Homo sapiens: one gene and its partners. The protein of the gene in region 1 purifies or fractionates together with the protein of each later gene. This does not show direct contact. Each region holds a gene or a part of one and is shown in the gene's direction. Other genes may lie near its edges.

Region 1 (3,500 bases):
TTCAGTCCCCTCCATTCCACCTAAACAGTCTCCTGACAAATGTAGCAATGATGGCCTTATCTGCTACATCCTAAGCAGACACTATATTGAGTAATATAAGCACTGCTTATATTACTCAACCTGTGGGTGGTGTTTGAGACACCATGAAATTCTCTCATCCCTTGGTTTTCAGGGCACCAGCTTCCCCTGGTTTTCCACTCACCTCTCCAGCCATTCTTTGTTAGTGTTCTCTGCGTGCTCCCTTTCTGCCTGCTCAAAGAAGGCATCTTCAGTAACCCTTCTATTCCAAGTCTTGATGCTCTTCCAGAGAGGCTCTGTGTACCTCACTTTTATCCTTATGGTTCTCAAAGTTTTGTCTGCAATTCCATCCTTGATGCCAAATTCTGGACCTATATGAAAATGTAACAACCTCCTGGAAATTTCACACTCAGTATATCCTAAACTAAACTCATCATCTCCCTATCCTCAACTTCCACCCATCTCCTCCTGCTGTAGTCTACTATTTTCAAACCTGGAAGTCATTCTTATCTTCTCCCTCTGTAGTCACCTATCACCAAGCCATATTTTTCCTTCTATGATGGGTCTTGAATTTTTACCCTTCTTTCCATTTCCATTACACAGGGCTCTCTGCCTCTGGTCTTGCTCAGTCAGAACCGTTCTCTAGGACTGTCAGAATTATCTTTCCACATGTGATTGTTTATAACCCTTCCATAATTCCACTAAGTGTTCATGCTTTTAGGCATGACCTACAAGCCCCATTGTGTTTTCAGCTCTGCTTATCACTTCAGCCTCTTCTCCTTCTACTCTTCTCTGCCATTCATCACCACCATCCCCAAACATACCCACATACCAATACCCAAACCACCTGGAACCTCTTTACTTTCCTTAATGCAAGATATTTATCCATATTCATTCTCTCTCTCTTTCCTTCTTTTCCCCCACTCCACACCTTTACATATGCAGCTCTACTTTTGTCTGACTACTTATAATTCTGGATTTAGCTCAGATACCACCTATTTTCTGACCACTTCCTTCCCAGTCTAGCTTAGGTGCCCCAGATAGCAGCCTTGTGTGAGTGTCTCTATCAGAAAAATATATTGTGGCTATTCATTTGCTTATCTGTTCTCCCTCTGGACTTTGAGATTTTTGTGAATGCTCAATCATCTTTATATTCTCAGCACCCTAAAATGGAAGTAGGCCTATAGTAGGCACTGTATAAATATATGATGAGGCCAGCACAGTGGCTCACATCTGTAATCCTAGCACTTTGGGAGGCCCAGGCTGGAGGATCGCTTGAGCCCAGGAGTTTGAGACCAGCTTGGGCAAAATAGGGAGACCCCGAGACCCCACTTCTATTAAAGATAAACAACTTAGCCTGGCGTGATAGTGCCCACCTGTGGTCCCAGCTACTCCGGAGGCTGAAGTGGGAGGATTGCTTGAGCCAGGGAGGTTGAGGCTACAGTGAGCTGTGATTGTGCCACTGTACCCCAGCCTGGGCAACAGAATGAGATCTTCTTTCAAAAAATAAGTATATGGTGAAAGAGTGAAGGAATTAAAGGAAGGAGAAATGAAATATAAATTTTACTTTTTGCCATCTAGGTTCTTTTGTTGCTCAAATTCTAGAAGTATTAGTCATACTATTTTTGGATTATTGTTTTAATAGACAGGGTAAATTGTATTATAATATTTAATCATATTTCCAAGAGTAGAAGGAACACTTGGGGTCAAGAAATTTAAAAATAATGAGTAAGAAATCTCTTCCTGAGATTTCCCCAAATTCTAGAGAGTAGAAATCATAGAAATCAACTTTTTTTCTCTGATTATGAAAGGAAAATTTGGCTCTCTGTGAAAAGGAGAGGGAGCCAGACGTATTTTGTGTAATGAGGAAGATAGATGCCCAAGGTGGTGCCTGTGCCTGTCTGACCTCCCCCTTTCCTCTGCTGGGCTCCACGCCTCATTTCAGTTCCCCAGGCTGCTCCCTGGGACACCTGCCCTGAGACCACACACTGTGTTCTCTTTGGTCCCGCATTGTCAAACTTTGTCCAGCCCTTTTTTGGGGGGGATTTAAGTTTTTATGCCTAGTGAAACTCCCACATGTAAAGGAGTATTCTTTCATATATGTTGAATATTAACTGGACAAAACCATAAACCTGCATAATGACTTAAGGTATTAAACAATGGACCTGGCTTTCCAAAAGAAGAATGGCTGGTTAAACAGTTACTAATGCAGCTAAAAACTGAGACTTGGAGTGTGAGAGAGACAAACTGATGAAACCGATGTTCTAAATCAAACTGATGAAAAAGGTTTTTAAGAATCACCACAAAAAAAATTATAGATGAATTTTTCTAAAACCATGATTTATGACCAGTTGGAGGCTGATGGTTCTGCAAATGAGTAGTAGGATCTTCATAGGTCCTTCCCAGTAAGCATCACAAAAGATGAAAATGGGCCGGACGCGGTGGCTCACGCCTGTAATCCCAGCACTTTACGAGGCCGAGGTGGGCGGATCACTTGAGGTCAGGAGTTTGAGACCAGCCTGGCCAACATGGTGAAAACCCGTCTCTACTAAAAATACAAAAGTTAGCCAGGCATGGTGGTGGATGCCTGTTATCCCAGCTACTCAGGAGGCTGAGGCAGGAAAATTGCTTGAACCCAGGAGGCGGAGGTTGCAATGAGCTGGTATCGTGCCATTGCATTCCAGCCTGGGCGAAGGAGCAAGACTCAGTCTCCAAAATAATAATTAAATAAATAAAAGATGAAAATTGAGTGAGATGTATGATGGTCTAGGAGAGGAGCAGTGAAAAATAGGATATATCATCAAGTGCTAGGTTGTGTGATACATATTAGTGTCTACAGAAATTTAAAGAACACAAGAGCAGGGCCGGGCATGGTGGCTCACACCTGTAATCCCAGCACTTTGGGAGGCTGAGGCTGGCAGATTGCTGGAGCCCAGGAATTTGAAACCAGCCTGGGCAACATGGCAAAACCCCACTTCTACAAAGTACAAGAATTAGCTGGGCATGGTGGTGCATGCCTGTAGCCCCAACTACTCAGGAGGCTGAGGCAACAGAATCACTTGAGCCTGGGAGGTCCAGGCTGCAGTCAGCCATGATCGTGACACTGCACTCCAGCCTGGGCAACAGAGTGAGACCCTGTCTCAAAGCAAAACAAACAAAACCCACAAGAGCATCGTGCTCTGGGATTAGTTGAGGGAGACTAAGCAGAGAGGGTGGATCTTCTCTAGGATTGACAGTCAAATTTGTGACCAAGAGCACTGCAGAGCAGAAAACAGATCATATTGACTTCCCTCCACGTCCTCTTAATTACTACCTGCTTTAGTTCTTTAATTTTTCATCTCTTTCAACTCTACCTTTTTTTTCCATTTCCATTTTTAACAGCCCAGTTCAAGGCTTTTTTGCCTCAGCTGAACCTTTTATAGTGCCCTCAACGCTGTCTCTCTTTCAAGAAACACATATCCATTCCAGAGTCATCTTTCCAA
Region 2 (2,993 bases), on another chromosome or scaffold:
GGAAATGGATGGACTGTGTTTCAGAAGGTAATTTTTTCCCCACCATGTGTATTTAATAAATTCCTACATTGTTTCTGCCATATGGCAGATACTTTTCTAAGCACCTTGTGAACCGTAGCTCATTTAATCCTTGCAATAGCCCTAAGAGGAAGGTACTTCTGTTACTCCTATTTACAGAAAAGGAAACTGAGGCACACAAGGTTAAATAACTTGCCCAAGACCACATAACTAATAAGCAACAGAGTCAGCATTTGAACCTAGGCAGTATAGTTTCAGAGTTTGTGACTTGACTCTATATTGTACTGGCACTGACTTTGTAGATTCATGGTGGCACATAATCATAGTACCACAGTGACAAATAAAAAGAAGGAAACTCTTTTGTCAGGTAGGTCAAGACCTGAGGTTTCCCATCACAAGATGAGGAAGCCCAACACCACCCCCCACCACCCCACCACCATCACCACCCTTTCACACACCAGAGGATACACTTGGGCTGCTCCAAGACAAGGAACCTGTGTTGCATCTGCCACTTGCTGATACCCACTAGGAATCTTGGCTCCTTTACTTTCTGTTTACCTCCCACCACTGTTATAACTGTTTCTACAGGGGGCGCTCAGAGGGAATGAATGGTGGAAGCATTAGTTGCCAGACACCGATTGAGCAATGGGTTCCATCATAAGTGTAAGAATCAGTAATATCCAGCTAGAGTTCTGAAGTCGTCTAGGTGTCTTTTTAATATTACCACTCATTTAGAATTTATGATGTGCCAGAAACCCTCTTAAGTATTTCTCTTATATTCTCTCTCATGATCCTTGCAGCAACCCTAAGAAGTAACCATCATTTTTCCTATTTGATACATGAGGAAACTGAGGTAGCTTGGCCAAGATCACTTAGTTGGGAGTTGATAGAACCAGTGCTCTGTATTTTTGACAAAATGTTGACAGCATTCTCTTTACATGCATTGATAGTCTATTTTCTCCTTTTGCTCTTGCAAATGTGTAATTAGAGACTTGATGGCAGTGTAGATTTCAAGAAAAACTGGATTCAATATAAAGAAGGATTTGGACATCTGTCTCCTACTGGCACAACAGAATTTTGGCTGGGAAATGAGAAGATTCATTTGATAAGCACACAGTCTGCCATCCCATATGCATTAAGAGTGGAACTGGAAGACTGGAATGGCAGAACCAGGTACTGTTTTGAAATGACTTCCAACTTTTTATTGTAAAGATTGCCTGGAATGTGCACTTTCCAACTATCAATAGACAATGGCAAATGCAGCCTGACAAATGCAAACAGCACATCCAGCCACCATTTTCTCCAGGAGTCTGTTTGGTTCTTGGGCAATCCAAAAAGGTAAATTCTATTCAGGATGAATCTAAGTGTATTGGTACAATCTAATTACCCTGGAACCATTCAGAGTAATAGCTAATTACTGAACTTTTAATCAGTCCCAGGAATTGAGCATAAAATTATAATTTTATCTAGTCTAAATTACTATTTCATGAAGCAGGTATTATTATTAATCCCATTTTATAGATTAACTTGCTCAAAGTCACATTGCTGATAAGTGGTAGAGGTAGAATTCAGACTCAAGTAGTTTAACTTTAGAGCCTGTCCTCTTAACAACTATCCTGGTTGAAAAGCAAATACAGCCTCTTCAGACTTCTCAGTGCCTTGATGGCCATTTATTCTGTCAAATCATGAGCTACCCTAAAAGTAAACCAGCTAGCTCTTTTGATGATCTAGAGGCTTCTTTTTGCTTGAGATATTTGAAGGTTTTAAGCATTGTTACCTAATTAAAATGCAGAAAAATATCCAACCCTCTTGTTATGTATAAGGAATAGTGAAATATATTGTCTTCAAACACATGGACTTTTTTTTATTGCTTGGTTGGTTTTTAATCCAGAAAGTGCTATAGTCAGTAGACCTTCTTCTAGGAAAGGACCTTCCATTTCCCAGCCACTGGAGATTAGAAAATAAGCTAAATATTTTCTGGAAATTTCTGTTCATTCATTAAGGCCCATCCTTTCCCCCACTCTATAGAAGTGTTGTCCACTTGCACAATTTTTTCCAGGAAAGAATCTCTCTAACTCCTTCAGCTCACATGCTTTGGACCACACAGGGAAGACTTTGATTGTGTAATGCCCTCAGAAGCTCTCCTTCTTGCCACTACCACACTGATTTGAGGAAGAAAATCCCTTTAGCACCTAACCCTTCAGGTGCTATGAGTGGCTAATGGAACTGTACCTCCTTCAAGTTTTGTGCAATAATTAAGGGTCACTCACTGTCAGATACTTTCTGTGATCTATGATAATGTGTGTGCAACACATAACATTTCAATAAAAGTAGAAAATATGAAATTAGAGTCATCTACACATCTGGATTTGATCTTAGAATGAAACAAGCAAAAAAGCATCCAAGTGAGTGCAATTATTAGTTTTCAGAGATGCTTCAAAGGCTTCTAGGCCCATCCCGGGAAGTGTTAATGAGCTGTGGACTGGTTCACATATCTATTGCCTCTTGCCAGATTTGCAAAAAACTTCACTCAATGAGCAAATTTCAGCCTTAAGAAACAAAGTCAAAAATTCCAAGGAAGCATCCTACGAAAGAGGGAACTTCTGAGATCCCTGAGGAGGGTCAGCATGTGATGGTTGTATTTCCTTCTTCTCAGTACTGCAGACTATGCCATGTTCAAGGTGGGACCTGAAGCTGACAAGTACCGCCTAACATATGCCTACTTCGCTGGTGGGGATGCTGGAGATGCCTTTGATGGCTTTGATTTTGGCGATGATCCTAGTGACAAGTTTTTCACATCCCATAATGGCATGCAGTTCAGTACCTGGGACAATGACAATGATAAGTTTGAAGGCAACTGTGCTGAACAGGATGGATCTGGTTGGTGGATGAACAAGTGTCACGCTGGCCATCTCAATGGAGTTTATTACCAAGGTATGTTTTCCTTTCTTAGATTCCAAGTTAATGTATAGTGT
Region 3 (3,500 bases), on another chromosome or scaffold:
GAAAATGTCAAAGATGTACCCTTTGGATTTCAAACAGTAACATCGGATGTAAACAAACTTAGTTCCTTTTACTCACTGAAACTAATCAAGCGGCTCTACGTAGACAAATCTCTGAATCTTTCTACAGTAAGTTGTTTAAAGCAAGTAGCAAGACTTAACTTTTTACAAGGAGTGGCATTTTCATGCTGTTAGACCTACAACTTTTTTTCAGTGAAATTCCTTTCTAGGATGTTCACTTGTGATTTGAGGCTTTAAATAAATAAATCCTAGTGGAGAGGTTGAGTATAGTGGGAATCAATTGCAGTCACATCTTCTAACTCAAAATACAGAGAAGCTTATGGGCTTTCCTTTTCTCTCTCAAATAAATCTTACCCTTTCTTTTACCTTCCTCTGAGAGAATGGAGAACAGAGTAATTAACTCTCTAATAAATGTAGCTCCATAGACAATGAGCTGTCTTACAGAGTGTAAGACAGCTAATGATTTAAACTTCTTTCTCCTTAAAGAGCAGGGCATATGGCCTGGGACAATGTTTTAAGCTCTCCACCTCATTTTTTATGCACACATTCTTCTGATGTTTCTCAAAATCAGTAAGAAAAATAATAACTATGAATTCACAATTTTCATCAGTCACAAATTAGTTTTGTTGGCTGGGCTGGTCAGATGGGGATCTCCACAGGCAGCTCTGGTTATATAAGTTTAGCCATTGCTCTAAGGAATCATACAAACACCACTACGGTACCCATTGTTGTAATATTTAAAAATCTGTATTTGAAACACACAGACAATATTCTAGACTACATGAAGTTTCCCTCTGTACTTCAGTAACACAGAGTTGATTTAGTTCCTGTTTGGATGGTCAGAATTTCAAGGTTTCCAAATCGAAAAGCTAGACTACCAGCTTTTAAATATTTTACCATGATTTTGCAACTTTCTGCAGTAGGTATTTTTGTGGTTAAGATCTTTTGAGGACATGGGTTACTAGATATTGTGAGTATATTTTTTGTTGCTTAAAGATACATACACACAACCATTTTTCTTCCAACAATCATCTGAAGAATTTAAAAAAAAAAACTGAGATGTGAGTTGAAGCCTGAGCATACAACATTTCTAGAAGCTCCCTAAATGATCATTAAAGAGACAATTAACACATTTTTATTGCTGGCAGTGAGGACAATGGAGGCCCTCCTTCATCTGGCTGAGGCTTTCTAATGTTTTCAGGTGAGATTGGTTCTGTCAGTCAATGGTGACAGTGAGTCCCAAGGTTGATTTGCAATTAACTGAAGCTAAGTTAATTGGCTAAGGCTGAAGCTGCTCTGAAGAAATTCAAGAAGCCCTGTGCTTGGAAGTGAACTGACATGACACTGAATCAAGTTATATTTAGTTTCACTGAACTTCCATGCAACATCTGGAATGATCTTAACCAGACTAGGAGTTGTAAAGTTTTGTTTTGTTTTTTTCCTTGGAGATGGAGTCTTTCTCTGTTGCCCAGGCTGGGGTGCAGCGGCATGATCTCGGCTCATTACAAAAGATTTTTTAAAAGACTGCTTTCCATTGCTCCTGCTAGGTGCACAGCATCTGCAAATTTACTAGTTAAAGGTCCAAACAAGTGTGCTCTGTGGAGGATCTCTTGCATAAGAACTATCTGGGTGTTAAAAGGGCAAGTTCTTCAGGCCCTTTTAACACCCAGGTAGTTCTGATTGAACCCAGGTAGTTCTGATTAAACCCAGGTAGTTCTGATTGTCAAGGTGGGAATGGGGTTTAGGGTTGCACATTTTAAATAAGCATTAGAATAAGAACTCCTGTTATGTTCTCTCCTGCATTGTGTTTCCAACCTTAATTTGCAGATGGCACACCTGGAAATTTTGTTAAAATGCATTCTGATTCAGTATGTCTGGGGTGGGGTCTGAGATTCTTTATTTCTAACAAGGTCTCAGGTGATGCTGTACACCACCTTGGACCACAGTTTGAGTAGCAAGGGTCTACAGGATATTTAGTTCAGCAAAGACAAGAGTTTTCTGCTCATAATTCTGTTTTCTATACATTTCCTATATTCTAATATATATGTATCTGTAGACATACAAAATTTTCATGTTTCTGAAATTACAACCCATAAGAGAATTGGGCATATTTAACATAGTGTTTTCCCCAAAGCTGATATTAAATTGATAGATGCATTTAATAATTGAAATTGTCTTATAATTGAAAAAAATGAAACATTCAATACAAAGAAATTCACTGACTTCTACATGAGGTTTCAATTCATATAGTGTTACCAATTTTGAAAGTGTACATATAGCAGTTGATATTTAATAATCCTTTTGTTAGAAGAGAATAACAATGCAATAGCTTGACTACAGACTCTGATTTTATGAACTGCATGTTTTTCAGGAGTTCATCAGCTCTACGAAGAGACCGTATGCAAAGGAATTGGAAACTGTTGACTTCAAAGATAAATTGGAAGAAACGAAAGGTCAGATCAACAACTCAATTAAGGATCTCACAGATGGCAAGTACCCTTTAATTGTTCTGCTATCAATCACCAAGTAAACAGGGCCTTCCATCTCATAAATGTTTGCTCCAAGGATAAAAAAAACATCTGGAGGATTCTCTGGATATTTTTACTACACAAGCTAAATTCTTTCCCTTCAAGCCTGTAAACAACTTGGATTTCTGGGCAATTCTTGTATCATCTCATCACTTGGTAGAAACTGTTGATGCTTCAGTGTTAGTTTACTTTGTCTTGCTCTCTGACGAGCTGTCACAGGCCCTAGTGGAATCCTAGCTGCGCCTCTAACAAAGTATGACTTTGGGCCAATCATGAGGCCATTTTTCAGTCTGGAAATAGAGGGACTGGATTATAACTTCATGATCCCCGAGGCCCCTTTCAGCTGACAAATTTTACAAATTTGTTAAGGAAAAAGGGACATAGGCAACATATGTAAAAGAAAAACCGGCTGGACGCGGTGGCTCACGCCTGTAATCCCAGCACTTTGGGAGGCCAAGGCGGGCGGATCACGAGGTCAGGAGATCGAGACCATCCTGGCTAACACGGTGAAACCCTGTCTCTACTAAAAATACAAAAAATTAGCCGGGCGTGGTGGCGGGCGCCTGTAGTCCCAGCTACTCGGGAGGCTGAGACAGGAGAATGGCGTGAACCCGGGAGGCGGAGCTTGCAGTGAGCAGAGATCGCGCCACTGCACTCCAGCCTGGGCGACAGAGTGAGACTCTGTCTTAAAAAAAGAAAACCAAACCAAACAAAACCGTAGTGTCAGCTTGTCCTCGGTGCCGCAGCTCCCCATGCTGGTCGTTCCTCTGATAGCCCCGGGGTCCAAGAAGCTCCTAGGTTCTTTCTCCGGCTCAGTGCTTCCCCCAGGCGTCTCCCTCGTCGGACTCCTCGTCCCTCCCTTAAAATTGCCGGTGAGTCGTCTTCCTTGCTGGAAAAGAATTAGGGTTATGATGATTTTGAGGGCAAATCAGTGACTTTGTCCCCCTCCCCAGT
Region 4 (3,500 bases), about 79 Mb from region 1:
CAACTACTTGGGAGGTTAAGGCAGGAGGATCACTTGAGCCCAGGAGTTTGAGGCTGCAGTGAGCTGTGATCACACCACTGCACTCCAGCCTGGGTGCCAGAGAGAGACTCGGTCTCAAAAAACAAACAAAAACCCACTGTTGTTCTAAGTGAATGCTGTCAGGGGAGGGGCAAAGACACAGGGAACCCCAGCGAACAGACTCCTTCTCCGTCCCATTTAGAATTCCCATGTAGTGCCCCATACAATTAGCTTCTGACCACATGTGTCCTTGGCAGACTGTCCCACCCTCTCTGAGAAAGGATGTGTCTTCCCCTGGTTGAGCCCTTCAGAATAGGAGGGTGACTCCCAATGTCCCCTGGCTGTTTGCTCACAGGCTGGCTTTCCCCCTGGTGTGGTCAACATTGTGCCTGGATTTGGCCCCACGGCTGGGGCCGCCATTGCCTCCCATGAGGATGTGGACAAAGTGGCATTCACAGGCTCCACTGAGGTAAGGTGACCCTGGCCTCAAGCTTGCAGCCTCCTTGGCCCAAGCTCCCCCTGTCCTCAGTGGACGACATGCTCAAGGTGAGCTCCCGGGTGTCAAGCGGAGGCCTTTTCCTCCAGGACGACCCTGTAGGTACCAGGAGGGGTGGGGCAGGGTTGAGCCCTTCGTGGTCTGGTTGCCACACTAGCTGCCCTTGGGAGGGGCCAGTGTCCCATGTGGACTAAGGAGGCCAGGCCTGGCCAGACTCCACATAGCCCAGAGCTGACCGCTTGCCCCAAATCAAAGCATCTTGGCCAGGTCAGACTCCTTGACCAGGACTGCCATTGTGGTTAAAAATTAGCCTTGTGTGGTGGTGTGTGCGTGTGGCCCCAGCTACTTGGAAGGCCGAGGCAGGAGGGTTGCCAGAGCCTGAGAGGTCAAGGCTGCAGTGAGCTGAGATCACGCCACTGCACTCCAGCCTAGGTGACAGAGCGAGACCCTGTCCAAAAGAAAAAAAAAGTGAACGTCTATTTGGTGAAATTCTCTAGGTCTCTCGTGGTCCAGTTGCTCACTCAAGCTGTGGGGGACTCTGTTCTGTGTCTATAGAGTGCTGGACTCTTTTCTCCCGGCACTGAGAGCTTGTTCCTGTCTTTCTGTCCCCACAGATTGGCCGCGTAATCCAGGTTGCTGCTGGGAGCAGCAACCTCAAGAGAGTGACCTTGGAGCTGGGGGGGAAGAGCCCCAACATCATCATGTCAGATGCCGATAGTGAGTTTCCAGCTGGAGAAGGCCTGGCCTTGAAGGTAGCCCTGGCCACCTGTGTTGTGGCTCCAGCCGATCCTGTCGCCCCCCCAGTGCCCAATGGCGTTGGTTGCTGTCCCTCGGGCCTCAGGATAAGACGCCAGCGCAGGGCCTGCATGGCCTGGCCTTGGCCTGTCCCCAGCCTCTCCCTGGCTGCTCTCTGCATCATCAGGCTAGGCCACGCCCCTGCTATCTGACTCATCCACTTGCCGCCATCACGCCCTTTGTCCTGGTTGGCAGTGGGCTCCGAGAGCACCCCTCATCTCCCTGTATCTGTCTCTGGCACCCAGCAGGCATCAACCCTTACAGTGGTGGGAACAGGCTCCATTGGGCAGGCGGCCACCAGGGCCAGGGTCCTCCTCCTCACTGTCACCTTTCTGTCTCCTGCCCACTTCCCGCAGTGGATTGGGCCGTGGAACAGGCCCACTTCGCCCTGTTCTTCAACCAGGGCCAGTGCTGCTGTGCCGGCTCCCGGACCTTCGTGCAGGAGGACATCTATGATGAGTTTGTGGAGCGGAGCGTTGCCCGGGCCAAGTCTCGGGTGGTCGGGAACCCCTTTGATAGCAAGACCGAGCAGGGGCCGCAGGTGAGCCAGGCAGTGCCGCAGGGTCTGGGTGTCTAGAGCCAGCATGAGAAGCAGAGAGGGCATCGGGCTCAGATCAGTTGGGACTGGGTTCAGGTCTCAGCTCTACCACACAGCAGCTGTGTGCCTTTGGGAAGCTATGTTCCCTCCCTCAGCCTTCATTTCCCCATCCCGAGCCGTGCCCTGCCTCATTCACAGGGTGGCTGTGATGTAGAAATTAATCCTGGGAAGCACTTTGTAAATTGCATATATGTAACAAATACCAGGAGTGTCTGCAAAAGGGAGTGTGTGTTTCCAAGACCTTGGTCATCAGTAGAAGTGTATCCACCAGAAGATACACAGCTCTGTGAACCTTCGTGTCTGAGAGCCATGGTATGGCTAGTATAGGGACTTTATTTCACTTCATGTTTTGAGCTGTTTGATTTTATTTATTTATTTATTTACCTATTTATATTTTAGAGACAAGGTCTCTCTTTGTTGCCCAGGCTGGAGTGTAGTGGTGCAATCATACCTCACCTCAGCCTTGAATTCCTGGGCTCAAGGAGTCCTCCTGCTTTGGCCTCTCAAAGTGCTGGGATTACAGACATGAACCACCACACCTGGCCTGGATTTTACTTTTGAGCAGTTGTAGGTTTATAGAAAAATAGAGCTGAACGTACAGAGGGTGCCCATATATTCCTTCGCACCTCCCTGTTCCACCAGTTTCCCCTTTATTCACATCCTGCATGAGTGTGGTTCATCTGTTAGTATTGATGAGCCAATACTGGTACCTTATTATTCACTTAGGTCTGTAGTGTATATTCGGGTTTTTTTTTTTAATTTTTATTTTTTTTGGAGACAGAGTTTTGTTCTGTCACCCAGGCTGCAGTGCAGTGGCACGATCTCGACTCATGCCTCCCGGGTTCAAGCAATTCTTGTGCCTCAGCCTCCTGAGTAGCTGGGACTACAGGTGCGCACCACCACGCCTGGCTAATTTTTTGTGTTTTAGTAGAGACAGGGTTTCACTCTGTTGCCCAGGCTGGTCTCGAACTCCTGAGCTCGGGCAATCTGCTGTCAGGCACCCAGCCTCGGGGTCATTTTTTGTGTTGTACTTACTATGGGCCTAGACAAATGTATCATAATGTGTATGATACCATCATTCTAGTATCATATAAATATATTTGTGCCCTGAAACCCCCGTCCTCCACCTATTCTTCCCTCTTTTCCTCCCCTGAGCCCTGGCAGGCAACCACTGATTTTTTTTTTTTTTTTTTTTTTTGAGACAGAGTCTCGCTCCGTCACCAGGCTGGAGTGCAGTGGCGTGATCTCGGCTCACTGCAACCTGTACCTCCTGGGTTCAAGTGATTCTCCTGCCCCAGCCTCCTGAGTAGCTGGGACTTACAGGTGCATGCCACCATGCCCAGCTAATTTTTGTATTTTTAGTAGAGACAGGGTTTCACCACGTTGGCCAGGATGGTCTCGATCTCCTGACCTCGTGATCCACCCACCTCAGCCTTCCAAAGTGCTGGGATTACAGGCGTGAGCCATTGTGCCTGGCCGATCTTTTTATTGTCTCTATAGTTTTGCCTTTTCCAGATTGTCTTATACGAATCATACAGTAGGTAGCCTTCTCAGACTGGCTTCTTTCTTTTAGCAGTTTGCATTTCTGATTCC

Evidence for each region. Proteins that work in one complex are often made in the same cells at the same time.
Region 2: the proteins of PKP2 (region 1) and FGG purify together in Homo sapiens (co-immunoprecipitation; one large-scale study listed by IntAct). This does not show direct contact.
Region 3: the proteins of PKP2 (region 1) and SERPINB5 purify together in Homo sapiens (co-immunoprecipitation; one large-scale study listed by IntAct). This does not show direct contact.
Region 4: the proteins of PKP2 (region 1) and ALDH2 purify together in Homo sapiens (co-immunoprecipitation; one large-scale study listed by IntAct). This does not show direct contact.

What each region holds. Positions count from the first base shown.
Region 1 is NC_000012.12:32,872,778-32,876,277, reverse strand, and holds part of PKP2 (plakophilin-2), read left to right. Parts: intron 1-3,500. UniProt on the Homo sapiens protein: A component of desmosome cell-cell junctions which are required for positive regulation of cellular adhesion.
Region 2 is NC_000004.12:154,606,664-154,609,656, reverse strand, and holds part of FGG (fibrinogen gamma chain isoform gamma-B precursor), read left to right. Parts: coding exon 1-27; intron 28-1,006; coding exon 1,007-1,191; intron 1,192-2,674; coding exon 2,675-2,952; intron 2,953-2,993. UniProt on the Homo sapiens protein: Together with fibrinogen alpha (FGA) and fibrinogen beta (FGB), polymerizes to form an insoluble fibrin matrix. Has a major function in hemostasis as one of the primary components of blood clots.
Region 3 is NC_000018.10:63,486,958-63,490,457, forward strand, and holds part of SERPINB5 (serpin B5), read left to right. Parts: coding exon 1-126; intron 127-2,389; coding exon 2,390-2,507; intron 2,508-3,500. UniProt on the Homo sapiens protein: Tumor suppressor. It blocks the growth, invasion, and metastatic properties of mammary tumors.
Region 4 is NC_000012.12:111,790,933-111,794,432, forward strand, and holds part of ALDH2 (aldehyde dehydrogenase, mitochondrial isoform 1 precursor), read left to right. Parts: intron 1-373; coding exon 374-487; intron 488-1,128; coding exon 1,129-1,231; intron 1,232-1,665; coding exon 1,666-1,850; intron 1,851-3,500. UniProt on the Homo sapiens protein: Required for clearance of cellular formaldehyde, a cytotoxic and carcinogenic metabolite that induces DNA damage.